Homo sapiens: one gene and its partners. The protein of the gene in region 4 purifies or fractionates together with the protein of the main gene of each other region. This does not show direct contact. Each region holds a gene or a part of one and is shown on either strand. Other genes may lie near its edges. The genes, in order: EIF2AK4, PPP6R1, VWA8, HSPA12B, L1CAM, HK1 and ARHGAP35.

The links.
Region 1: the proteins of HSPA12B (region 4) and EIF2AK4 purify together in Homo sapiens (co-immunoprecipitation; one large-scale study listed by IntAct). This does not show direct contact.
Region 2: the proteins of HSPA12B (region 4) and PPP6R1 purify together in Homo sapiens (affinity purification with mass spectrometry, with the first as the bait; one large-scale study listed by BioGRID). This does not show direct contact.
Region 3: the proteins of HSPA12B (region 4) and VWA8 purify together in Homo sapiens (affinity purification with mass spectrometry; one large-scale study listed by BioGRID and IntAct). This does not show direct contact.
Region 5: the proteins of HSPA12B (region 4) and L1CAM purify together in Homo sapiens (co-immunoprecipitation; one large-scale study listed by IntAct). This does not show direct contact.
Region 6: the proteins of HSPA12B (region 4) and HK1 purify together in Homo sapiens (affinity purification with mass spectrometry, with the first as the bait; one large-scale study listed by BioGRID). This does not show direct contact.
Region 7: the proteins of HSPA12B (region 4) and ARHGAP35 purify together in Homo sapiens (affinity purification with mass spectrometry; one large-scale study listed by BioGRID and IntAct). This does not show direct contact.

Annotation. Positions count from the first base shown.
Region 1 is NC_000015.10:39,940,615-39,944,114, forward strand, and holds part of EIF2AK4 (eIF-2-alpha kinase GCN2), read left to right. Parts: intron 1-2,768; coding exon 2,769-2,871; intron 2,872-3,500. UniProt on the Homo sapiens protein: Metabolic-stress sensing protein kinase that phosphorylates the alpha subunit of eukaryotic translation initiation factor 2 (EIF2S1/eIF-2-alpha) in response to low amino acid availability.
Region 2 is NC_000019.10:55,256,218-55,260,401, reverse strand, and holds the start of PPP6R1 (serine/threonine-protein phosphatase 6 regulatory subunit 1), read left to right. Parts: upstream 1-1,384; 5' UTR 1,385-1,967; intron 1,968-2,676; exon of another isoform or gene 2,677-2,789; intron 2,790-3,331; exon of another isoform or gene 3,332-3,451; intron 3,452-4,184. UniProt on the Homo sapiens protein: Regulatory subunit of protein phosphatase 6 (PP6). May function as a scaffolding PP6 subunit. Involved in the PP6-mediated dephosphorylation of NFKBIE opposing its degradation in response to TNF-alpha.
Region 3 is NC_000013.11:41,688,610-41,692,109, forward strand, and holds part of VWA8 (von Willebrand factor A domain-containing protein 8 isoform a precursor), read right to left. Parts: intron 3,330-3,500; coding exon 3,265-3,329; intron 2,837-3,264; coding exon 2,711-2,836; intron 1,667-2,710; coding exon 1,557-1,666; intron 900-1,556; coding exon 745-899; intron 1-744. UniProt on the Homo sapiens protein: Exhibits ATPase activity in vitro.
Region 4 is NC_000020.11:3,731,347-3,735,484, forward strand, and holds the start of HSPA12B (heat shock 70 kDa protein 12B), read left to right. Parts: upstream 1-1,338; 5' UTR 1,339-1,448; intron 1,449-4,138.
Region 5 is NC_000023.11:153,869,174-153,872,673, reverse strand, and holds part of L1CAM (neural cell adhesion molecule L1 isoform 1 precursor), read left to right. Parts: coding exon 1-82; intron 83-319; coding exon 320-522; intron 523-1,494; coding exon 1,495-1,617; intron 1,618-1,713; coding exon 1,714-1,884; intron 1,885-2,174; coding exon 2,175-2,286; intron 2,287-2,433; coding exon 2,434-2,618; intron 2,619-2,739; coding exon 2,740-2,871; intron 2,872-3,010; coding exon 3,011-3,154; intron 3,155-3,500. UniProt on the Homo sapiens protein: Neural cell adhesion molecule involved in the dynamics of cell adhesion and in the generation of transmembrane signals at tyrosine kinase receptors.
Region 6 is NC_000010.11:69,381,347-69,384,846, forward strand, and holds part of HK1 (hexokinase-1), read left to right. Parts: intron 1-1,140; coding exon 1,141-1,445; intron 1,446-2,986; coding exon 2,987-3,135; intron 3,136-3,449; coding exon 3,450-3,500. UniProt on the Homo sapiens protein: Catalyzes the phosphorylation of various hexoses, such as D-glucose, D-glucosamine, D-fructose, D-mannose and 2-deoxy-D-glucose, to hexose 6-phosphate (D-glucose 6-phosphate, D-glucosamine 6-phosphate, D-fructose 6-phosphate, D-mannose 6-phosphate and 2-deoxy-D-glucose 6-phosphate, respectively).
Region 7 is NC_000019.10:46,996,997-47,000,496, forward strand, and holds part of ARHGAP35 (rho GTPase-activating protein 35), read left to right. Parts: intron 1-500; exon of another isoform or gene 501-762; intron 763-2,307; coding exon 2,308-2,413; intron 2,414-2,830; coding exon of another isoform or gene 2,831-2,936; exon of another isoform or gene 2,937-3,077; intron 3,078-3,334; coding exon 3,335-3,500.

The DNA of each region.
Region 1 (3,500 bases), on a different chromosome or scaffold from region 4:
TAATTATAAAACATTAATGAAAAAGATAATTAAAAATTTATGAAAGGAAATTAAAAGAGTGCCTCTCTAGGTTGTTTTTTTTTCCTGACACCAAATACATGATGCCTTTTCTGATACCATGTGGGTGTCCAGTAGTTCAGTTCAATTCTGACACTATCTGTAGTTAGCAAAGACCCCACAGATTAAGGACCCAGTTCCACAAGATTGCCTCCATTTCTGATGCTAGTGGCAAGTCCCAGTACTTCTGACCATTTATAGCCAGTATTTATAACTGGCTATAAATTTAGGGGTTTCCACCACCCCCTCCTAAGTTGCGATAATTGCTAGAATGCATCACAGAACTCAGTTTCTGTGAGTTACATTTACCAGTTTGTTGTAAAGGATATGGCTCTGGAATAGCCACATGGAAGTATTATGAAGGGTAAGGTGTGTGGGAAGAGGCACAGAGCTCCCATACCCTCTCCAGGCCTGGCACCCTCCCAGCACCTCCCTGTGTTCTTCAACCAAGAATCTCCCTGAACCCTGTCGTTTAGGGGTTTTTATGGAGGTTTCATTATGTAGAGATGATTGATTAATTAAATCTTTGGCCACTGGTGATTGAACTTGATCTTCAGCCCCCTACTCCTCCCTAAAGATCTGGGATGGGGCTGAAATTTCTCACCCTGTAATCAAGGCTTGGTTTTTCTGGTGACCAGTCCTGATCCTGAAGCTATCCAGGTACTGACCAGAGTTCCCTCATGAGTACTAACTCCGGTATGGTTGGAAGGGGTTTGTTATGAAAAACATAAGATGCTCCTCTCACCCCTGTTGCTCAGGAAATTCCAAGGGTGATAGGATCTCTGTGCCAGGAACAGGGGTCAAATATCAAATATATATTTTTTTATTATACCATAGCCTCAAGAATTCAAAGTGTTTATTCTTGAAAAATCAAAATAAAGAAAAAGGTATAAGTGCTATAATGTTATATAAGTGCTAAAATATTAATTATAGCATTATTTGTGAAAGCAAAGATATTGGAAGCAATCTAAATGTCAAATACTAGAGTGAGGTTTCTCCACCTTGGCACTACTGACATGTGGGCAGATAACTCTTTGTTGTGGGGTCCTTCCTGGGCATTGTGGGATATTTAGTAGCATCCCTGACCTCTGTCTGCTAGATGTCGGGAGTACATTTCTCCCCAGGTTGTGGCAACCAAAAAAAGTCTCCAGATGTTGGCAGATATCCCCTGGGGCCAAAATCACCCCTGGTTAAGAATCATGGCACTAGATAACTATTCAGGTAAATCTTAATGTGTCCACTTGATAAAAATATTATGGGATGATTGCTTTTAACATGGAAATGCTTATAAAAGTTAAAAAGCAAACATTATAATATCAGCTACATAAACTATGAATTATATAGCAAGGAAATAAAGAGAACATTAGAATTTTTTTTGAAGTTTAATTAGCATCATTGATGATTTTTTCTCCATTCTGTTAATATTGCTATATTATGATTACTTATTTTTTAAATTATAACAAAAATCTTAATTTGGGGTAATATTCTTATCCTTTTGAATGTGGTACAGGAAAACATTGCTTTTCTGCAGAATAGTCCTGGGTGCCACTGTGAGAGAGAGACTCCCGGGTTAGATTCTGGAATTCTGGAAATTTCAGCCCCATCCCAGACCTTTGGGGAGGAATTCTAGAAATTTCAGCCCCATCCCAGCTCTTTGGGGAGGAATCTAACCCAGGATTCCATACATAGAGTCAGGACTGTATGGTTTGTTTTTCTGTTCTTTCCCTCATATAGACTACTTTCTCTCAGATTTCTATCTATAGAAATAGATAATGATCATAGCACCCTTTCATACTGAAGCATTGAGAGAACGCATAGATAAGTGCATACTCAAGACTTCACTGGTTAAATGCCATGAATTACTCAGAAATGCTTGGTAAAAAGTGATGAGTCATCATCTCTTCAGTAAAATTAAATAACTCCTATTTAATCTGAGAGAGTTGTTATTGGATATTTATTGGTTGGGAATAAAATGAAACCCGAGGGCTGGTTGTGTAATGTCCTTGAGTTGAAAGTGTTGACTTAGATGAGCTCTAGGCAGAGGTGCAGAGAGTGTGCATGACTAGATGTATTTATACACAAGAAGTGAGCATTTCCACCTGGTTTCGATCAGAATGAGTGATTGGGATGCAGCAGTGTGTTGTGGGAATACTAGAGGGATCACCAGGGCTCCACTCATCTATTTATTCTTGTTCTGCTTTATGCTAGAGCACACCTGAATGCAGAGCGCTTGGCCTTGCCAGTGAGCTGTCAGAGCTAGGTTAATTCTCATTGGCTGCAAGCTAGGGTAGAGAATTACCATACAAAGGAGCACATGGTTAAGTTACTGGGCTAGAGTCAGCTGCAGAACTGGAATGATTTTTTTTTTTTTTTAAGGTGAAGAACTCAGAGTTAGGGATCCAGGTCAAATCGTAGGAAATAAATAGTAATTGATGTTGGGAAATTTTAATCAGATTGTAAAGCTGAAATTAGATACAGGGGTCAAGCCCAGTAAGTCTAACAGCCCAGACAGAAGGCTTTGGCCAGCCCACTTCTTCCCTGTAGGACGCAGGTGACTCCACTGTCAACTGGAGTTGCAGGGATATGGTTGAAGTCCCTTTGAGATTAAGGGCCTTGGGCCCAGAGTGCTTTCAGTTTAGCAAATATTAATGCAAACAGGCTATACTTTCTGGAGTAACTCTTTTTTTTTTTTTTTTTTTTGCCTTTTCCAGAGTTCCTGAAATAGAGTTAAAAAATGCCAAAGGTCTATCAAATGAAAGTGTCAATTTGTTAAAATCTCGCCTAGAAGAACTGGCCAAGAAACACTGTGGGGAGGTAAGATTTGTTAAACTGGAATTAAAAGAAGACAGTAAACTTCCCCATTACACCTCAAATCCAATTTTGAGTAGCATGTTTTGTGTTTTATTGGTTCTACAAAAGGGAACATTGTGATTTTTATTTATTTAATAGGATTAATGAAATTTGTAGTCTATAGATGGTACTATTGATGCTGAAGAATGTTTCTGAAAATTGCTAGGCATGGTGGCTCACACTTGTAATTCCAGCACTTGGGGAGGCTGAGGTGGGAGGATCACTTGAGCCCAGAAGTTTGAGACCAGCCTGAGCAAAATGGCGAGCACCTATCTCTAAAAAAATTAACTGGGTGTGGTGGTGTATGCCTATAGTGCAAGCTGCTCAGGAGGCTGAGGTGGGAGAATTGCGTGAGCCCAGGAGTTTGAGGTTACAGTGAGCTATGATCACACCCCTTCACTCCAGCCTGGGCCATAGAGCAAGACCCTCTCTCTTAAAAAAAAAGAAAAAAAGAAGAAGAATTTTTCTGAAAACAGTTGATGTGAACCCAGCCATACTTTTTGTATACTTTGGATCTTGCATCATGACTTGAACCTTTTTGTTGGAAAATGTGGGCAGACAAACAATTTCGGACCACCTCTCCCCTTTGCATA
Region 2 (4,184 bases), on a different chromosome or scaffold from region 4:
GGTCTCAATAGAACAAAGAGGGCAAAGGAGGGGTGAATTTGCTCTTTTTTTTTTTTTTTTTTTTTCTCGAGACGGAGTCTCGCTCTGTCACCCAGGCTGGAGTGCAGTGGCCTGATCTGGGCTCACTGCAACATCCACCTCCCGGGTTCAAGTAATTCTCCTGCCTCAGCCTCCTGAGTAGCTGGGATTACAGGCGCACACCGCCACGTCCGGCTATTTTTTGTATTTTAGTAGACACGTGGTTTCACTGTGTTGCCCAGGCTGGTCTCAAACTCCTGAGCTCAGGCAATCCGCCCACCTCGGCCTCCCAAAGTGCTGGGATTATAGGCGTGGGGTCTTGAACTCCTGAGCTCAAGTACAGGCAGGCGTGAGCCACCACGCTGGGCCCTTTGTTTTTGAGACAGGTTCTCGCTCTGTCTCCTAGGATGGAGTGCAGTGGTGCAATCCGGCTCACTGCAGCCTCGGCTCAAGCGATTCTCCTGCCTTAGCCTCCCGAATAGCTGAGACCACAGGCGCGGGCCACCAGGCCCAACTAATTTTTTAAATTTTCTTTTGTAGAGACGGGGGTCTCCCTAGGTTGCCCAGGCTGGTCTCCAACTCCTGGTCTCATGCCATCCTCCGGCCTCGGGCCTCCTAAAGTGTTGTGATTACAAGCGTAAGCCACCGCGCCCGGCCAATTCGGAGTCTTAAAACAAAAACAAAAACAAAAAAGTTCCTCGCGCCCACACGATTTTTACAGTAGGCCTCTAACATGGGTAGAGAGGGGAGCTATTAAAGTTGGGGAAACCGAGGCTCAAAGCCAGAGGGACCTTCATCAATCTAGACACAAGGTCTAGGAGGTCTCTTTCAGTTGATGCTATTAGAAGCTGCTTTGGGCGGAACTGGCAACACCAGCGACCCGGCCGGGACTATCGCCAGCAGACGGAAACGACTGAGGGCCTCTGAGGCTCGGAGGCGGCTAAGCGCGAGAGCCGGACGGAACGAAGGCGCCTGGCTTTGGCTGGAGCGAAAACCAGGTCTGGATTTCGCAAGAGCCCGACCCTGGAGCCAAAGCTCCACTATGATTAGAGGAGACAGAACAGCGAACGGATTTCCAAACGGAGCGAGTGGGAAGGGAAATCCTGGAGCGGAATATTCACGGGGCCTTGGAACGGAGCCGGTGCGCAGCTGCGGCTCACTGAGCTGTCTGGGTTTATTCCGGGGCAGACCGTTGGCACCAACGGGCGCAAGCGCGTCTGCGGCGGCGGGGTTCAAGAGTGGGCGGTGTCGGGAGCGCCCGGGCGCACGCGCACTGCACCGCCCAGGCGTGCACCCCGCCCCCCGCACCTGCGCACCAACACAGCCGCGGGAGGGCGGGGCCTCCTGCGTCGTCCTGCGCTAGGGGGATTGTGGGATAGTGGCGGAGGGAGCCGGGCGTCGGAGGCCCTGAGGCCGGCCGCAGAGCCCGGAGATTGAGCGGCTTTGGGGAAGGGGTGGTTAAGGAAGTAGGCCTCGGCTTCCGTCGGTCGCTGCTCGGCTCTGCGGCCCGTTTGGACCGCGGAGGAGGTCGCCTTCCCCTCCCGTGGGGCGCTCGGTTGGACTGTGGAAACCGGGGCAACTTCCCCCGTCTTCCCGGCTGAGGCGCCTGCGTGGGCCTCGCGACCCGGCTCGCCAACCCGCCTCGGCCCGCACGCCCACCTCGCCTGCGGACCCCGGAGGTGCCTACGCGGACTAGTGACGCCCCCCGCCCGTCGGCAACTCCACCCGGCGCTGACCCCCTCAACTCTGCAGGACCCGGCGCGCGAGGACCCCACGACCCGCGGGCGCCTGCGCGGACCCCGCGAGCCCCGGCGCCTGCGCGAGTCCCCGACGCCGCCCCCGCCCCCACTCACCGGGCCCCGCAGCAGGGGCCGGAGCCGCCGGCGGCGGGGCGGGGGGGGGCGCCCCGATGAGCCCCGAGTGCGAGGAGCCGCCGCCCCCCCTCGCAGGTGAGCGGCCCGCGTCGCCCGACCCTCTCTCTCCAGGGCCAGGCGCCCACGTCTTCCCCTCTCCGCGTCCCCTCAGGCTTTTCCCTCTCGGGACCCCCGCGGGTCTTTTCTGCTTCGGATCCTTTCCCTCCTTCCTTCGGGTTTCCTCTCCACGGCACCCCGTTTCTTCCCCCTCGACCCTCCCCAGTCTCTTAATCTCTTCACCTCAGCTCCGCCGCCACCCTAGTCTCAGTCTCTTGCTCTCGGCCTTTTCCCACTCGCTCTCTGCAGCTGCGCTCCCCAGTCCCTGAGCCTCAGCTCCGCTCTCTTGCCTCTCTGGCCGGTTCCCCGGCCCCCCAGGAGTCTTTCTCCCTGGTTACCCTGGACTTTGCCTGCTTACACCCTTCCCTCTCGCCCCGATCTCTGCCCCGCCACCTCTTCCGTGGCGCAGCCTCCTTAGATCCCCGGAGCTCAGGACTGGAGGAGCGGGGCTTGTTTTCACCTTGACCGACCCTCTCCCGCCTCCGGCTTCTTGTGCGAGGGACCTGGGAGCGGGGCTTCTCTGGAGCAGCCACCACTCGGGCCTGCTTCAGTGAGATGAAGCCTGCTGAGGGCAGGCAGGGAGCCTGGCGCTGGGCACCGAGGAGGGGGCATCAGCCCTAGGCCCTGCCCTGGAGGTGGGGCCGGTCCCTGGAGGGGGTACAAAGGCAGAGCCGGACAGTCACAATTCCTGCGTGTCGTGATCGAGGTGACTTAGGGAGCTGCAGGGGGCCACAGAGCGGGAGGCACTGGTGAGACTGACTGGACGGACGGCTTTTTCTGTCTAGGAAGGATGAGTAGGAGGTGACAGATGGAGAGTGGGAAGAAGGGCCTTCCGGGGGGGGAAGGAGCAGCACGTGCAGATATGTCAAGGAAGGAAGGTCGGAGTCCTGAGTGCAGATGTATTGGGAGGGTGAGGGGCAGAGTAGTTCCGCCCGGCGTGCTTATCCAGGCCTCGAATGGGACCTCTGGTTGGGGTCTTTCTTGCTCGCTCGTAGTACACACAGACATGACCATAGACACCCGCCTGAAAGGCAAGATGTTTCAGGAAAGGAAGCTGCGTAGACTGTCAGGTGCGGTACTGGGTTCACAGTTGTAGAGAAACTGCAGTGGGATTTCATCCAGCCCAAGGGCGAGGGTCTAACTGTTAGCGTGCGCTGCAAATGCAGCAAGGACTCGAGATTGCCTGGATAACACAGGATGAGGACTTGGTTTACATACATGCACAACACACATGGAGACACGGCGCCCGGCCACGTGTGCTTACTAGTGGTGGGATGGCTGTTGGAGCTGCTTGTGCTGTTGAAAATGTTATGCTTTTTTTTTTTTTTTTTTTTTAACTCTAGTTCTGGGATTGGGATCATGAGAAGGCAGTCCAGCTAATTGTTAGAGGATCTTTTGCCAGACAGACCTAGGCCGAGTCCGGCTTCTGCCAAGCGAGACCTTGGACAAGTTGTTCCTCGTCTGTAAGTGGGGATAGCAGACTGCTCTCCTCAGAGGGTGGATCTAGGGATTAAGTGCAGGGTTTGTAGAAGCCTGTGGCAGAATGCAAGGCACATGACACTCTGCAATCAGTAGCTGTTTTGATGTTGATGATTTTGAGACTGGGTTTTGCTCGTTTGCCCAGCCTTGAACTCCTGGACTCAAGTGATTTTCCCACCTTAGCCTCCTAAGTAGCTAGGACTACAGGCACGTCCTGCAATGCTTGCTCAATTTTTGTGTTTTTGTACCACGCTTGGCTAATGTTTGTATTTTTTGTAAAGACTGGGTCTTGCTCTGGTGCCCTGCTGTGGTGCCCAGGCTGATTTCAAACTCGTGGGTTCAAGCAGTCCTCCTACCTAGCCTCCCAGAGAGCTGGGATTATAGGCATGGACCACCACACCTGGCCGTTCTTTCGATTATTATTTGATTTGGGAATGTCCATTGCAGTGGCTCTCAACTGGGGGCGATTGTGTCCCCTGGGGGACGATTGGCGATATCTGGAGATGTTTTTGGTTGTTACAACTGGGGGGAATGCTGCCAGTATCTGGTGAGTGGAGGTGGAGGCTAGGGATGTTGCTAAGTGTCCTCCAGTGCATGGGCAGCCCCAACACCGAAAAGAACCGTCCAGCCCAAATGTTAGCAGCGCAGAGGAGGAGAACTTTGCTCCACTGCTGGGGTATGGTGTGTCGTTGTGGCTTATTTGCTCTGTTGTGACTC
Region 3 (3,500 bases), on a different chromosome or scaffold from region 4:
CTGCAAAGATATGATAAATCAGAGCAAAACTCAATGGAAAATAAATCTATCTTCATGACTGTTGAAAATTTTAATCTACAATAATGACAATCCAACAAATTTAACTTTACACAGGAACAAAAAACCAAATATCACATGTTCTCACAAGTGGGAGCGAAACATCGAGGACATACGGACACAAAGAAGGGAACAACAGATACTGACACCTACTTGAGGGTGGAGAGTGGGAGGAGGGTGAGGATCAAAAAACTACCTATCAGGTACTATGCTTATTATCTGGATGACCAAACCATCTGTACAACAAACTCCTGTGACATGCAATTTACCTATATAACAAACCTGCACACGTACACTTGAACCTAAAATAAAAGTTAATAAATAAATATATAGAATGTGTAGATGGAAAAATAATTAACTTTAAAAAATTATAGAAGACATGACAGAAAATTACCATCAGAAGGTTAAGCATTTAAACTGTATTACATGAACCCCCACATATGGAGAATACTCATTTCCCCCTACTAAATTCTATCATTGCATTACGCTTTCAATGTTAATTTTTGAAGTGTAATGAAACTATTTAGGTATAACATATTTTCTACTGACTGATTTGGAAGGAAGACTTGATCCAACATGTTTACCAGGAAATTATGTTTTTAATTACCCCTCAAACAGGCTTACAGATTATAGGTCAAACTAAGGGAAAGAAACATTTATCCGATAATTTAAAAAATGGGTGCTTACCATGAGATCTGGAAAACCAACAACTATTGTAGCATAATTTTTCTCATCTGAGAGAATTCTGTTGGGAGAGGCAATCTTTTGTTCCACAGCTGAACTTAGATGTTCAGATGATAGTTGATCACTGGAAATTTTATGAGGTATGCTGAACTCTGTTTCTGAAAAGTACAAACATTAGACACCATATGCTCCTGAAATGCTCCAGGAATTAATTTTTTGCAAGATTTTATTCTCAACAAGTCAAATGGAAAAGAACAAGTTAAAAAAGAGAAAACATTTTAAATTACATTCATGGGCTTTTGTTTGAAAAAATGCTGTTTTTATAATCAAGGCATCTTCCCAAAGTGATTTCAAGTATTTACAGAATTCAAAATTTTATTAGGAATAAATATTATAATTAATAGCTCCCTGTAGAAAAGATGTAAAAACTGACCCAACCAAGGGTTGGCAATGGTATGTTTTAGATTTTTTTCGTAAGTACTATTCATCCCCCAAAACTGTGATAAATTAAATAGAAATCCCAATAGTCTGCAGAAAAAAGATGTTATCCTAAATTAGACTTGCAACCTAAATGTATATAAAAATACTGATCTGTCAGTTAAAAAAATTCAAGGACAGAGCTTACAACAGTGAACTTCCTTATGACAATTTGAGATACTAGATTCTTATTTACTATTTCTGGTGTAGTGACTAAGTTTTTTCTTTTGGTGTAAACTTAACATAGGCTGGTGTTTTGTTCTTAAATGATTCTAGAAGACAGTATATGTACAAGCATGCACTCACACAGCCATAAACACAGATGACATAGTATTTACCTTGTGTAACTCCAAACCCTGTGCTGGGCGGCTCCTCTTTCAGCACATACAACTGGCAAACCCCACTACCCTCAGATTCGATGTGTGCAGGCTTAGTTAAAAGATATTTCCTGCAAACAAACAAAACATCTAGCTTAAGTGAAATTTTTCTTTTTCTAATAGTAATAAGGCCAGACTAAGAAAAATTAGATTCTCCTCAGTCTCTTTTTTATAGTTCCAGTATAATTTGCAGTTTTAGAGTTTCATCATGAATTAACAAATAACTTCTCAACACTGTGTTAAAGAGCAGTGCACAACAGCAATACAGTAATGAATGTGAGGCAAAAATCCAATGCTTCCTATAAGAGAAAGGGTTGTGGGGAGGGGAAGCAACTCTAATGGGGTGCACTCTTATTATCATGTAACCCTCTCTTGATAAAACTCTTTGATCAGCCAGGAAGGGGGAGTATGACTTCTGATTTGTGATCAGCTAGGAGATAGATGCCCTCACAACTGTAGTCTCCTTGATCTACTTATTTTTAACATTTCTAAAATATGGATGTATATATAGGCAGAAATCCTCTGCAATGAGATACTTCTGCTTGTCAGCAGAGGGGCAGAAAGAGTCTGCACTTAGCTAGTGGAGTTGTGCATGAGGGAAGGTGCTCAAAGTCGACACCGCCTTTCATCAAGAACTGCACAGTCCAATGGGTCAGATAACATAAACATAAACATAACCACATCCAAACCAGAATACACAAGATAAAAAGAGAAAGACACTTCTAAGGTGTGAACTCTGTGAATTTACAAAGAGGCAACAGCTCTAGGATAGAGACTGTGGCTCTTTGAAGGGAAAATCTACTTTGAAGTGTCTCCAGTTTAGCAAGAATACAGTGAATTCTCAATGTACAAATAGGAAAAAGCCCAAATAAATATGGATCATATGAAAAAGTCATGATTTTTTAACTGTTAATTTCAATGTCATTTTCTGAGAAGTGACATTTATTTTTTCTCCCCTCCTCAATTCTTATAAGTCTCATATATAGAGATGCTGCCAAACACAGAAATTGTTAAAGGACAGACACAGGAAAGACAGAACAGTAAAGATGTTGGATAATTCATAAATAAGATTGAGCTACAACATACTCCATGATACACTATATAAAGCCACTCACTGATTTGTTTTGCTCTCCACCAGAAGCCATTTGTCCTCTGCTACAAGGAAAACTGTCTTGAGGTTGATGGGAAGTGAGATGGTGTGAGTTCGCCCTTCTAGAACATCCAGCACAGTCAGGCTGTTCCTGGAAAAGAAGAAAACTGTATCTGAAAGGAAATGGTGAGGATAATGGTTGAGTAATCTGGCATAATCATTTCATGATACATTATGCAACCCATAAAAAGAATGTTTTAAGATTAAGTAATAATATAGAAAAATGTTAATTAAAAAAACAGATATGCAAAATTCTAAACTATGTCAGGGTGTGTATAAGTAAAAATAATGGAAAGTAGTAACCATTGCCATGTTAGTAGTGGCTATGTCATGGAATTGTGAGCACTAGCTTTTCTTATATCTGTTTCTCAATATTCTGCAATGTGGGCAAGTTACTTTATATTAAAACATTCATAATTTGGTTACATTCACTTTATAGTAAACAAGTATAATCAAAATAGGAAATAGAATGGGCCAAATAAGAACTCCAGTTTAAATCCTCTATAATAAAGAGCTCACCCTTTTTCTTTGTAGAACACCAGCCAGTTTTTGTGTGAAAATTCTTTACACATTTTATAAGTTTCCTAAAGACAAACAAAACAAGATATTCATATTAAATGTGTCAGATACAGTCATGTCCCTCTTTAGCTACTTCCCCTTAAATAAAATAAAGTTCTTCAACTAGTAAAACATGTAATTCTCAAACAAGCTATCTATTTATCTGCTCTAAGACTCTTATGGTAAAATGGATTAAA
Region 4 (4,138 bases):
AGGGAGGGAAAATAGCCCTTGCAAAGGTTTGGAGTGGAAGAGCAAAAGGGATGTCCCAAGAACTGTGCCTCATTTGATGGGGCTGTGGGGCCCTTCTCTGACGGGCAGCCTTCCCAGGCACAAAGGGAGGTGGACTGAGAAGCATCTGGAACTTCTGTGGGGGCACATGGGGCAGAGGGGAAGGGGAACAGGCAGAACGAGTCAGCTGCCTTTGAAAGCTCCACGAGGGACCTAGCAGAAATTCATTCATTCATCCGTTCATTCATTTATTTATGACAGGTTCTCTCTCTGTCACCCAAGCTGGAGTGCGGTGGTGTGATCACACTTACTGCAGCCTCAAACTCTTGGGCTCAAGCAATCCTCCACCCCAGCCTCCTGAGTACCTAGGACTACAGACGTGAGCTACTACACCTGGCTAATTTTTAAAACTTTTTAGAGACAGGGTCTCCCTTTGTTGCCCAGGCTGGTCTTTGTTGCCCAGCCAGCTTCAAGCCATCCTCCCACCTCAGACTCCCAAAGCGCTGGATTACAGGCATGAGCCACGGGTTCCCAGCCCAGAAAGAGACCTTCACCCCACAAACCCCCTGTCTGGAGGCCAAGTCCCAGCATCCCCAGAAGGGCCCCGGTTAGGACAAGAAAAAGGCTGTGTGCCTCGGAGGAGAGGCTGGGTGCCCCCTGGTGCGGAGTGGTCCCCTTGCCGGGCATGGGGCCTCAGTCTGTGAGACTCCGCGCCTCCGTCGTCTGAACTTGAGCAAAGACAGAGCTAGGCCTAGCCTGGGGACCCGAGGGCCTGCCCTCATCCGCAATTCTGCCTCTTTTCTGGCCACTGAGGACCGGGCTAGGGAAGCTGTAGGGGCAGTAGGGGTGGGAGGAGAGAGGGTTCCGGGTCAAGGGACTGGAGGGGTCTGGGGCAGGGAAGTGGAGGGGTCTAGGGCGGGCCCTTCCCCCTCCGCTGTTGGGCCCTCGCTGAAGGGGCCGAGGCTGAGCCCCAAGGTGGGCCTGTGGGGGCGGGGCGGGGGAGCCCCTCAGCAGCTGGACCGCAGGAGGCCGACCAGGGTCTGGAACTCCTCTTCCCCTCCCTCCGCCGCCCCCTCTCCCTTCTCCCACCCCCTGGGCTGCTAGGGGAGCGGGGGAGGCGCAGGAGGGGCTCAGGGAGGGGCCCTGGACGCGGGACCAGGCTGGGCCCCTCGGCGGAGGCCCGCGCAGGCAGGCCCCGCCCCGGCCTCGCACATCTGGGCCGGGAGCGCGGGCCGACCCGGCGGCGCAGGCGGCGCGGCCATCCGGCCTGGGGGAGGGGGCGGCGGGCGGGGTGGGCGGCGCGAGGAGGCGGGAGGCCTCAGGGCCGGGCGCACGTCGAGGGCTGCGGCCGCCGCAGCGGGCACGGCCAACGAGCTGCGGGCCCGGGATCGCGGCGGCTGGACGGGGCTGGAGCTGTCGGGAGGGCGGAGGTGAGTTCTGGGGCGGGGGCTGCCGGGCGCCCCGAGTGGAGAAAGGCGAGGAGGTTTGCCGTCCCGGGCTGTCGGCTGAGACCCCACCAAAAACCTCCAGACTTTGTCTGGTGGGGACAGATCTGCAAGCCCCTCTCTGCAGCGTGGCTGCGGGCTCGGGAAGGCACTTGGGGCAGCGACCTTGGTCTCCCACCTGGGCTTCGGGGGACCACCTCCCCTGTCCCTCGCACAGCTGCTCAGAGGCTTAGGCTGGAGAAACTCCTGTGTCTTAGGGGCTGGCAGGACTGGTGTGGGCTGGGGCCTGCTCCAGGGAGCCAAACTGAGGGACCCGGTGCCTAGGTCTGAGGTGGAAACCTGGGAGTTGAGTGTATGTGTGTGTGTTGGGGGGTGCCTCAGGGGTCCCAGGCCCTGTGGTCCCGAAGCGCAACAGAGTACTGAGTGGCCCAGGTGCCAGGGTCTGAGGCTGGGACCTGGTCTTCCGGGCCAGCTTGAGGTCCAGGTGGGGTGGGGTCCAGGTTCCCGCTAGGGCAGTGGAGCCTATCTGTGAGGTTAGCGTGTGTTGATGAGAGAGACTGGAAGGGAGTGATCACGAAACTAGGGACCCTCCGGAGAGCAGACGCAGCGCAGGAATCCCAGGCCAGAGGGGTAATGGGGGGCTGTGGGCAGAGCATGGGAGGGGCTCTGTTGTTTGTGAACTGGCTGCTCCCATGATGAGGACCCAAGGGGGTGCGGCAGGATGTATGGAAAGCAAAGATGAGGACAGGGAGGGGCCATGGGAGGCCATTTCTGTCACTCCCTGCCCCAGCGCAGGATGGGGCAGCCACCTCACTCAGCCACACATGGTCCCATCTTCTTAAGGGCTCCTCTCCAGAACAGAGTGGGGCAGCCCTTTGGGTGCCGTTTCTGATCTGTGCTTTGGGCCCTGGTTGGCCCAGTCTGTGGCTTGGAAGAAACGCCTGTGGCCTCACTTAGCCCGCTGACGGAGTCCTGTTCCATTACAGGGCTGGCTGGGTGCTGAGCAGAGAGCAGCAGGCGGAAGAGGCAGGGTCCTAGTGAGGAGGGGAGCTGGAATGACCTGGGTGGGCTCTTTGTCTACACAGGCATCGTGTGGAGCCCTGAAACCCAGAACACTGCATTCCCATAGTGCTCCTGGGGACATGAGCGCCCAGCTGAAACACCCCACACAGGAAGAGATCCTCCGAGGATTCTGTCAGGCAAAGGGTTGGGCCCCTGCAAGGTGGCTCACGCCTGTAATCCCAGCACTTTGGGAGGATGAAGTGGGAGGATCGCTTGAGGCCAGGTGGTCGAGGCTGCAGTGAGCCGTGATCGTGCCACTGCACTCCAGCCTAGGCAACAGAGCAAGACCCTGTCTCAAAAAAAGGAGCGGGAGTGGGGGCAGGGTTCGTCCTAGGCTATTGTAAGACCAGGGGATACTCTGGGATGGGAGTCTCTGGTTGTGAGTTCCTGCTGGGCCACACCCTATCCTGGTCCCCAGTGACTAATCGGCCCTGCCTATTGGGTAGAAGTCAGGGCCAGGGGTCAGGGTGAAGCTGATGACTAGAGGTCAATATGAAGCCAAGAGTTAGGGGTCAGTCCATGGGCAGGGTTAGGGATCAGGCTGGGGCCAGAGTTTGGCATGTGCTTGTAGCCAGGAAATGGAGTTCCTTTCTGTGTAAATCAAACTGTCCCACTCAATTACTCTCAAACCCATAGGCACCACCAGTCTGAAATTAGTAGGCCCCTGAAGCGGGGCTCAGCCTCCCCTCATTTTCAGCTGTGGACTCTGCCCAGACCTAGCTTTCGGGAGCTGGGCTTGTCCCGTGTTCTGTGGTCAGCACTCTCCTTAAGTGTCCCTGGGTGTGTGTGCTCGCTTGGCAGTCAGCCACCTCTTGGCTTACCTCCACCTCTCGGGGAATCCGTGGGATCCTCCTTCTTTAACACAATTTTTTTTTTTTTTTTTTTGGAGACAGGGTCTCACTCTGTCACCCAGGCTGGAGTGCAGTGGTGTGATCATGACTTACTGCAGCCTCAACCTTCCGGGCTCAAGCAATTCTCCCACCTCAGCGTCCAAAGTGGCTGGGACTCTAGGCATGCACTACCACGCTGGGCTAATATTTGTATTTTTCGTAGAGATGGGGTTTTGCTGTTGCCCAGGCTGGTCTCGAACTCCTGAGCTCAAGCAATCCACCCACTTTGACCTCCCAAAGTGCTAGAATTACAGGCATGAGCCACCACACCCAGCCCTTAACACAGATTGATTTAGTTCCTACCTCCTTCCTTAAAGAACTCATGATGACTAGAATGCGATTCTCAGTAAGACCAAAATATCTAACAAGAAAATTCAGAATCTGCATCATGAAGGGAAAGAACACTGCTCAAACCTGCCCAACTCCCTGCTTTTATCAATACCTTGCATATCTGGACTTGTTAACATAAGCCCTCTGTGTCACCCATTCTACAGGAAAGGGCACTGAGGCACAGAGATGTGGCATGATGCACTCACGCTAGGTGCCATAATAGGCTCTTGCCATCCCTGAAACCCCAGCATAGGGGCACTCAGCATATCGCACAATGAGAGACGGTAGATAACTGGACAAGCTTCCGATAGCTGGGAAGAGTATAGGCCCATGGTTTGGATGTGGAATCCAGTGTAGAGCGAGGACTCAGTCTTTTTTTTTTTTTTTTCTTGA
Region 5 (3,500 bases), on a different chromosome or scaffold from region 4:
AACAGTCTCCACGGCGCCTGGTTGTCTTCCCCACAGATGACATCAGCCTCAAGTGTGAGGCCAGTGGCAAGCCCGAAGTGCAGTGAGTGATCTCTGCCGTCTCAGCCCCTGTTGCCTGCCACTGACCCCGGCCTTGTGCCTCCCTGGACTGCCTAACTTCTAAGCCCAGAAGCCCCAAACCTTGCTAATCACCCCAAGTCCTCGCCATCTCCCAGTCCATCCCCTGGGGGCCCTGGCTGCTTGCACCTGTCCCTCCAGCCTGTTCCAGCCCCCGTTGGGTTCCAGGGCCTCAGGCCTCTGGGCCTTTTTCCGCCCACAGGTTCCGCTGGACGAGGGATGGTGTCCACTTCAAACCCAAGGAAGAGCTGGGTGTGACCGTGTACCAGTCGCCCCACTCTGGCTCCTTCACCATCACGGGCAACAACAGCAACTTTGCTCAGAGGTTCCAGGGCATCTACCGCTGCTTTGCCAGCAATAAGCTGGGCACCGCCATGTCCCATGAGATCCGGCTCATGGCCGAGGGTGCGAGGCGCTGCAGGGACCAGGGAGGGCAGGTCCCGGAGTTCGTGTGGGATTGTGGGCTGGAAGCTGCTGTCAGCCAGTTGTCTCGTGGCGAGGGGCCTGGGTGTCCTGCCAGCCCTCCACCCCACCCCAGCTTCTCCCCTGGCCCATCTTGTTTCTTGTGCAGTCTCCTCCTTTGCCCTGTCTCTGTCTCCATTGCACTTCCGGTCATCTCATGCCCTTTCACTCCCTCAGGCTTTCCTGGTGCCTGCCTCATGGCTGAGCAGGAAGGTGGCGGGGGGAGGGGGGGGCGGGCTGGTGGGGGGAGTGACTGATTCTGGGCAGACCTGCCTGAGTCACTGCAGTCATCTCTGTCTACACCTGCACTCCTTAGCAGGGCCCCTCTTCTCTGGCTTTTCCACTTGGCTCTCCATCTCCTCCCCTCCACCTCCGACTTGGTCTCTCTTGCTCCACGGCTCTGTCTTGATCTGTGTCGCCTTTTCCCTGGGGTTTTCCCTTTGCATTCCATCCTCCCTGAGCTTTCTGCTTCCTGAGCGCTCTCCTCTCCCCTCCCCACCCCTCCAGTTACCTTGGGAACCGTTGCCATGGTTTCTGTGTCAGGATGATGGAAGGGTCTGTGACTCCTGCATCCCTCCACAGCTCCCCTCCCCCATCACTGCACCTCAGCCTCAGCCTCCCCCCACCCGTCCTTTCCTAGGGTGGGCAGGGAGAGCTGAGAACCGTGGAAGGTTAACCCTTCCTGGCCTCCTGGTCTCCTGCTCACCCTGGCCTCCCTAAGTGCTAGTCTCTGCTATGAGTCCAGAAGGTATCCAGAGTGTCTGCCTCCTTTTCTGTGAAGTTTCTACTGGCCTGACCCTCTCGCCCCCTCGTCCATCCCTGGTGTAGCCCGCCACCCCCCTGCCCCCACCTCCCTTCTCCTGCCTAGCACCATCTGGACCAGGAGGAGAGTGTCAGCCCGTCTGTCCCTTCTAGGTGCCCCCAAGTGGCCAAAGGAGACAGTGAAGCCCGTGGAGGTGGAGGAAGGGGAGTCAGTGGTTCTGCCTTGCAACCCTCCCCCAAGTGCAGAGCCTCTCCGGATCTACTGGATGAACAGCAGTGGGTGCCGGCGAGCGGCTGCCTCGTGGGGTCGGGGTGTTAGCGGGGGTGTCTTCCTGGACGGGGTCATGACTTCGGCCTCCTTGCCCCCTGCAGAGATCTTGCACATCAAGCAGGACGAGCGGGTGACGATGGGCCAGAACGGCAACCTCTACTTTGCCAATGTGCTCACCTCCGACAACCACTCAGACTACATCTGCCACGCCCACTTCCCAGGCACCAGGACCATCATTCAGAAGGAACCCATTGACCTCCGGGTCAAGGCCAGTGAGTCTCAGAGGCTCTGCACTCTCTCCCTGACTCCTTTCACCCTCAGGCATGGCCCTTCCCACCATAGGTCCATCTGACAACTCCAGGCTTCCTCAAGAACAGCTTGGCTCCCACCTCTACCCTGCCCAGACCCCTTCCCAGGCGTCGAGAGCAGAGACAGGACACTCTCCTTAATGGAGGAAGACACAGAGGCCCCGGGGGCTGGCTGGAGTGTCGAGTCCCTCAGCCTTGCAATTCTGGGGTGGAGGGAAGAGTGGGCAGCCCACCCACCCACTTTCTCCTGGCAGCCAACAGCATGATTGACAGGAAGCCGCGCCTGCTCTTCCCCACCAACTCCAGCAGCCACCTGGTGGCCTTGCAGGGGCAGCCATTGGTCCTGGAGTGCATCGCCGAGGGCTTGTGAGTCTGGGAACCCAGGGCAGGGCAGGGCAGGGCAGGGTGGCGGAGCCCTAGCAGGGAGCTCAGACCACCGCGGGGTATAGGGGGCTGGGGTGATTGGCCTTGTCCTTTCTCCCTTCTGCTCTCTTCCCTTTGCCTCCCGGGCAGTCCCACGCCCACCATCAAATGGCTGCGCCCCAGTGGCCCCATGCCAGCCGACCGTGTCACCTACCAGAACCACAACAAGACCCTGCAGCTGCTGAAAGTGGGCGAGGAGGATGATGGCGAGTACCGCTGCCTGGCCGAGAACTCACTGGGCAGTGCCCGGCATGCGTACTATGTCACCGTGGAGGGTATGGACCTCCTGGGACAGTGGCCTGTGATGCCCACTGTCATGGGGGAGGGGAGGGTCTGCGCCGGGTCAAGAGCCAGCTGCTGGCTGCGGGCTCAGGGCGGCTCTCCCCTTCCTCCCAGCTGCCCCGTACTGGCTGCACAAGCCCCAGAGCCATCTATATGGGCCAGGAGAGACTGCCCGCCTGGACTGCCAAGTCCAGGGCAGGCCCCAACCAGAGGTCACCTGGAGAATCAACGGGATCCCTGTGGAGGGTGAGCAGGGCCTCAGGCAGGAGTGGGGAGTGTGGCGAGCCCTGGGGGCTGTGGGGGAGAGGAAGAGGAGGGTGAGGAAGGGCCTCAACGCAGCTCAATGCCGGGCTGTGGCCCATGGGCCCACCTGCTGCATGCACAGAGCTGGCCAAAGACCAGAAGTACCGGATTCAGCGTGGCGCCCTGATCCTGAGCAACGTGCAGCCCAGTGACACAATGGTGACCCAATGTGAGGCCCGCAACCGGCACGGGCTCTTGCTGGCCAATGCCTACATCTACGTTGTCCGTGAGTGCCCTCCCTTCCTTACCTCCTAACTCCCAGTCTGTCCCTGCAGCCCACTGGGCCAGGCCACCAGAGTGGCTCAGCTGGCAGCTGATGTGTCCTCGGCCTACCAGGCTGGCGCCGACCTTTCTCCTTGCTGACACCCTTCGCCCCATCTCACTCAGCCTCACGATAGCCGAGGGAGATGTAAGAGGGGAAAGGTCTTGTCACTGTGACTGAGCGGACCGCTGTGCCACAGGATGTGACCAAGGCCAGCCCAGGTGGCACCTCTCCTGGAACTTCAGGGAAGGCTGGGGACTAGGCCAGGAAGGCTTCTGGGGAGAGGTGACTGTCAGTTAGGCCTGGAATA
Region 6 (3,500 bases), on a different chromosome or scaffold from region 4:
CGTAATTGTATTTTTAAAATATTTTTAAAGTATTTGCAAAAATCTTGATAATGAAACTTTTATTAGCCATTTCTTTCTTTTTTCTTTGTAATTTCTTGGCTAATTTTTTGGACAAGAAAGCCTAGGGATTTGCAGCATCACATTAGAATTTTTTTAGATTGTGGTAAAATACACATAACATGAAGTATATCATCTTAACCTTTTTTTTTTTTTTTTTTTGAAGGCAGGGTCTTGCCCTGTTGCCCAGGCTGGAGTGGAGCGGAGTGGTGTGCTCTCAGCTCACTGCAACCTCTGCCTCCCAGGTTCCAGCAATTCTCCTGCCTCAGCCTCCCGAGTAGCTGGAATTACAGGCATCTGCCACCATACCCAGCTAATTTTTGTATTTTTAGTAGAGACGGGGTTTCACCATGTTGGCCAGACTGGTCTTGAACTCCTGACCTCAGGTGATCCACCTGCCTTGGCCTCCCAAAGTACTGGGATTACAGGCATGAGCCACCTCGCACTTGGCCCCATCTGACTTTTGAACACCGTGCTTTTGACCACTGTGCTGTATTATCTTCCTGTCATGGTGGAGGGCAAAATCTTTTTAGACCTGGAATTTTTTGTATGTGATACTCATGTAATAATGAGAGTCTTCTCTTTTTATGTGTGATTATGAACGATTTCATTTTTCCTTTTTACCTCTCTGCATTTGCTAACTTTTCTACAGTGGATGTATATGATTTGTGTAATGAAAAAAGCAGGTGCAGAAAATGGAATTAGGCTGGGCACAGTGGCCCATGCCTGTAATCCCAGCACTTGGGAAGCTGAGGCGGGTGGATAGCTTGAACCTAGAAGTTTGAGACCAGCCTGGGCAACATGGCGAAACCCTGTCTCTACTAAAAATACAAAAAAGTTAGCCGGGCGTGGCCCCAGCTACTCGGGAGGCTAAGGTGGGAGGATCACCTGAACCTGGGAGGTTGAGGCAGCAGTGAGCTGTGATTGTGCCATTGCACTCCAGCCTGGGTGACAGAGCAAGACCCTGTCTCAAAAAAAAGGAAAAGAAAAAAGAGTTAAAGAGTGGAGAAAGAAAGGGTGGCCGGAGGTCCCCAATAAATGCTCAGTCCAGCTGTTGTGGAATGTCCCCCCTGCCCCCATAAGGTATTCCCGGCGTTTCCACAAGACTCTAAGGCGCTTGGTGCCAGACTCCGATGTGCGCTTCCTCCTCTCGGAGAGTGGCAGCGGCAAGGGGGCTGCCATGGTGACGGCGGTGGCCTACCGCTTGGCCGAGCAGCACCGGCAGATAGAGGAGACCCTGGCTCATTTCCACCTCACCAAGGACATGCTGCTGGAGGTGAAGAAGAGGATGCGGGCCGAGATGGAGCTGGGGCTGAGGAAGCAGACGCACAACAATGCCGTGGTTAAGATGCTGCCCTCCTTCGTCCGGAGAACTCCCGACGGGACCGGTGAGGGCCTGCTGGGGGCTGACATGCCTGTCCTGCTCCTGCCAGGAACTGAGCCGCAGTGGGGGAGGTTGGATTCGCCAGTGGATGCCTTCACACTGGTGATGCACGATTTTGCCAGAGCTAGAAACTCCCTCACATCTCTGTTTTCCATTTTTATTAACTGATTTGTCATGTGTGTGACTCAGGGCAGTTTAATTTTCCTGGTCAGACCTCCCAGGCAAGTGCTATCTCTAAAACCACAGCCCTGCTCAGAACAGTGCTCTTAGCTGGGCAAGGTGACACACGCCTGTCATCCAGCTACTTAAGAGGCTGAGGTGGGAGGACTGCTTGAGCCCAGGAGTTCAAGACCAGTCTGGGCAACATAGCAAGACCCTGTCTCAAAAAAAATTAAATGAATAAAAAAGAAGTGTTCTTAAAAGCTGGGCAAATCCCACAGCACTGATTAGGTTTTCCCAAAGCCAAGGAAAGCCAGCAGAAGGATAAACACTCAGTGTACCCTTCTTAAATCTTGATAGAGTATGCATGAGGCATTCAGGGCCTGGGGAGTTTCGCATTCAGGCAAATTGTAGAACAAAATCCAACCCTTTATGCTAACCTTGGTAGTTTTCACTGGAGCTGATCATTATGGGGAATCTGAAGAGCTTTTCAGGTGGGTCCTTGGAGTAACGAATGTTTGTGACAGGAATGTGTCCTATGTGTAAGTTACCTAATACCACATTATAAGCCACCCTCACACTTAGTGGCTTAAAACAACCACGCTTTATTATTGTTCATGCATCTGTGGGTCAGTTGGACAGTTCTGCTCATCAGGGCCAGGATTGGCTGACCTCTGCCGGCCTCATTCCTGCATCTGCAGTCAGCTGTTGAGTCAGCTGGGAGGCAGATCTCAGACGCCCTTCCCCACATGTCCAGCAGTTGGCTGTCAGCTGGGGTGCAGGGGCCCCTGGCCCTGTGTCTCATCCTTCAGTGGGCCACCTGGCTGTTCAAGTGGTGGCAGCAAGGGCTGCGAGGGAGAGGGGAAGACTTCAAAGCCTCCTGGAAGCCCAGGCTGGGGATAGGTTCAGCTTTGCCTCTGCCACACTCTGTTGGCCTGAACAATCCTAGGGCTGGGCTAGATCCCAGGGGAGGAGAAATTGACTCCATGTTTCAGTGGGAGGAACTGCAGTCATGTTGCAAAGAAGGATTTTGCACATGCAGGGAAGGGAATGATGCAGCTGTTTTTGCAAATACCCCACACCTTGACATAAATTATTATTTTTTGTAGGAGATTTTCATTGTTGCAGCCCTGGTGAAGTCTGTGTATTGTGACAGGTGGTTTACTCACATGCTCTCCTCCCAGTGTGGCTCCAAGTCTGTGGTGGTCAGAGATGTGGTGCCCACTCTTCCTCTGAGTCTGTGCTGTGTCCTAAAGGGAGGAGTTGCAGCTTCTCCTCTATGTTTGCTATGGGGTTCTCCCCTTGAAAGTCTGGAGTCTTGGGGTTACTGGCTGCCAAGAGGCACTTAGCTGTTTTTGACATTCTTTACGCTTTTGACTGCAACAGAGAATGGTGACTTCTTGGCCCTGGATCTTGGAGGAACCAATTTCCGTGTGCTGCTGGTGAAAATCCGTAGTGGGAAAAAGAGAACGGTGGAAATGCACAACAAGATCTACGCCATTCCTATTGAAATCATGCAGGGCACTGGGGAAGAGGTGAGATTACAAAACCATAGTGCATGTGCACTGCACACACGGCCAGTGGCACCGGCAGTCACGTGATGACCAAAATCCGCCACGGGGTGCCCACATGGATTTGTGTCCTTGTGGCCCAGAAGCACCAGATGCTTTTTGCCATGCCTGGCTTGTGACACTCTGGTGGCTGAGAAGATTCTGGAAAAGGAGGCTCACTCTGCATGTGTGTGGGGTGTGTTTTCCTACGTGTGTGTGTGTATACACACTTTGGTCCATGTGCACTGATAAAATTAAAACCACAGAGAGCACGGGCGATCCTTTCTTTTCCCCTGCAGCTGTTTGATCACATTGTCTCCTGCATCTCTGACTTCTTGGACTACATGGGG
Region 7 (3,500 bases), on a different chromosome or scaffold from region 4:
AAAATACAAAAATTAGCAGGCGTGGTGGTGGGCACCTGTAATCCCAGCTACTTGGGAGGCTGAGGCAGGAGAATCGCTTAAACCTGGGAGGCAGAGGTTGCAGTGAGCTGAGATCACGCCACTGCACTCCAGCCTGGGCAACAGAGCGAGACTCCATTTCAAAAAAAGAAAAAAAGAAAGTGCCCTTGAGGTGGAACCCTTAAAATAAACCTTGGATTCAGAGAGATGAAGCTGCTCATAGCCCAATAACTAGCTCCCAGGACTTTTTTAGTCATTTCTGATAGACAGATGTTACCAAGACACTGCTCTTATCAAGTCACACTCTCAAGGCCACAGATTTGCCAGGTTTCATTCCTCCTCATTAGGCTGCCCGGGAGAGCTCCTGGAGCTCTGTCCCTTCCAGCCCTGCGGCCTCCCTTCCCCACAGGCTCCTGCGAGTAGACTGGCTCCCAGGTGCCCTTATTTTGTGTCCAGCTGTGAACTCTTCATTTAATTGCCAGGTGTCACCGAATGAAGGAGGCACTGTCCACAGCCCCTTTTACAGACAAGGAGACTCACCCTAAGGTGTCACTTGCCCAAGGTGACACGGTTGACGCGAGAGGCCGGATTTGTACCAGGGCCATCTGAGTCAGGATCTGGACTCCAGACCACCACAGGACCTTCCTCCCTGCTCAGCGTGCCCGTCATTGGCATTCTGTCTGCTCTTCCAAGTCTCACTCTCACCAGGGTGCTTGTGCAACTCCCCCAACTCTGACCCTCTGGGTACGTCACCTGCTGCAAGGTGACTAGGAAGCTATGGGTTTCCCAAAGAATGCTTGCTTCAGGGCTGGGCGCGGTGACTCACGCCTGTAATCCCAGCACTTTGGGAGGCTCAGGTGGGTGGATCACGAGGTCAGGAGATCGAGACCATCCTAGCTAACACGGTGAAACCCCGTCTCTACTAAAAATACGAAAAAATTAGCCGGCGTGGTGGCGGGCACCTGTAATCCCAGCTACTTGGGAGGCTGAGGCAGGAGAATGGTGTGAACTCAGGAGGCGGAGCTTGCAGTGAGCCGACATCGCACCACTGCACTCCAGCCTGGGTGACAGAGTGAGACTCCGTCTCAAAAAAAAAAAGAAAAAAGAAAGAAAAGAATACTTGGTTCAGGGAGTCCGCACCCCTCCCGGATTCATCAGCAGAATGGCACACATATGTCTCCGGCCGAGACGGTCTGGCACCATCATCTATCCCAAAGGAGCCCGAGCCCCCGGGCCCATTAGCAATCATCTGCGCTTTAACAGGCCTCTCTTCACCACCCCCACAGCCGCCAGCTGTGAGGTCGCTGCCATCTCCTTCGTGAGACCCTCCTGTGGTTCTTCTGAGCCCTGGAGTCCACGAAGGAAACATGGGGGCATCTTTCCCTGCACAGAGAAATCTGTCTTAGCCAGCTGGGCTCCAGGTGGGCTCTGGGACGTTTGTGCCTCACCAGCCCCGATGCCCTTCCCAGTCAAGGTGGGCCACACCCACTCGGGGATGGCAAGCCCAGTGGCCACAGCTCAGGCCCCACAGCCAGTCCCAGCTCTGCAACTTCTAAACTCAGATACTTCATCCTCAAAATGGGGTGACGAGTTCCTGCCTCACACGATTGTGGGGACTCATGGAACTGGGCCTGGCGCGGGTTACAAGCTGCATTCCAGGCAGTTGTTTTCCCTCCCCCAGGACATTAGGATTCCATGATAGGCAAAGTGTGGGCGTTGGGGGAAAAGGGGGTGCGTAGTTCCTTTGGTGAAGTGCATAAGAATTCCCCCACTGTTTCCATCAGCCCCTCCAACGGGGATGTGTGGACGGTCCCTGTGTCTCTAGGAAAAGGACAGAGCCTTGGTCTCATGACCGACTGACTCCCTCCCTCGAAGGCCTGTTGGCGTGGGTGGGTGGCAGCGGCCGCCCGTCTCCATCTGGTCAGGAAGCAAGCAGGCTTTCTGCGTAGGGATGCCTGTCTCCAGGGGCAACCGGATGAGCAAAGAATGGTGTTCTTTATGGCGGAGTGTCTCCAGATTGTTCTGTCTTGGGTGGTGGGGGCCAGGAAGCCCCAGGCACACAGTGCCGCCCTTCAGCGGGGGCCTGGGACACAGAGGTGGGCCAGACCCCTGGGCCAGTGCCACTGCCAGGTGTGCCAGCCTTGGGCACAGGCTTTGGGGGAAAGAGTGGGGTTAGTGTCATCCAAAAGCCCTGGGCTGTCCTCAGAGAAGGCCCATCACAGAGCACGCCCTGGGGTGGCCACCAGCCTCGGCCATGAAAGGCAAGGCTTTGGTTTTCTCTCTCCTCAGAAATCAACGACCGGGAGCAGAAGTTGCATGCCCTTAAGGAGGTATTAAAGAAATTTCCAAAGGAAAACCACGAAGTCTTCAAGTATGTCATCTCTCACCTAAACAAGTAAGTCGCAGGGCCTTCTGGTTGGTTTTTCCTCCTGAAAATTGACAGCCAGGGTCAGTGTGTCGCAGAACAAGGCTCTGTCCACAAGCCAGTAGAAGCCTCAGGCCCTGGCCTGGAAGGGGTGCTGGCTGGCCTCCCATGGTGCCCGCTGGTCTCGGTGCCCAGAGCCTCTGCCTCTCGCCCATCCTCAGGCCTCCCTCCTGCTCCTGTCTGAGGGCAGCCCACGTGGCCTCAAACCTGCCTAACACCAGATAGGGCACTTAGCTCCAGCGGGCATGGGGCCTCTTGTAGGCCTGTGTCCCAAAGCTGGCAGAGAGAGAAGATCTTCTGGTTGGTACTGATGCTCCAGAAATCTTCTCCTGAATCAAAAACACCTCAGAGTCCCTGAAAGTCCTCTCACAGCATTCACGTTCCCAGCTGGGGAGAACCGGGACACTGCACCTCGAGAGATGTGCTGCAGGAGACAGCCAGCCTCCGGCATGGAGCACAGCCGCAGGCGGGAGGCCGTATGGTTGTTCCCTGAAGTTCCATGTGTGTGGAGGAGATCTGCTGGCCGAGTGGCCTCTGATGGCGCTCTGGCTTAGGACACTCAGCCTCCCTCCCTCGTCACAGCCGGAGCACCGCCACTGCTTTGGCTGGCTGCAGAGTGAGTCCCTGAGGTGGTCCATCCACCCCCAGGGGTTTGCGGGGCTCCAGGCAGCCTTTCCGAGGTTGGCCATGTAGAGGCACTGGGCTGGAGGGGAGAGGACACTGAGGGCGCAGCCTCCCAGGCAGGGCAGGGTACAGAGAGCTGCGCATGGCCTTTTCTGCTCCACCTGAGGGAAGAAAGGTGGGCTCAGCCTGGGTGCTGAAGACCATGAGCGCCCAGGGCCAGGTGGGGCCCTGCACAGTTCTGACCATTGAGTTTGGTGTCGCCCGCAGGGTCAGCCACAACAACAAGGTGAATCTCATGACCAGCGAGAACCTCTCCATCTGCTTCTGGCCCACCTTGATGAGACCTGATTTCAGCACTATGGACGCCCTCACAGCCACGCGCACCTACCAGACAATCATTGAACTCTTTATCCAGCAGTGCCCCTTCTTCTTC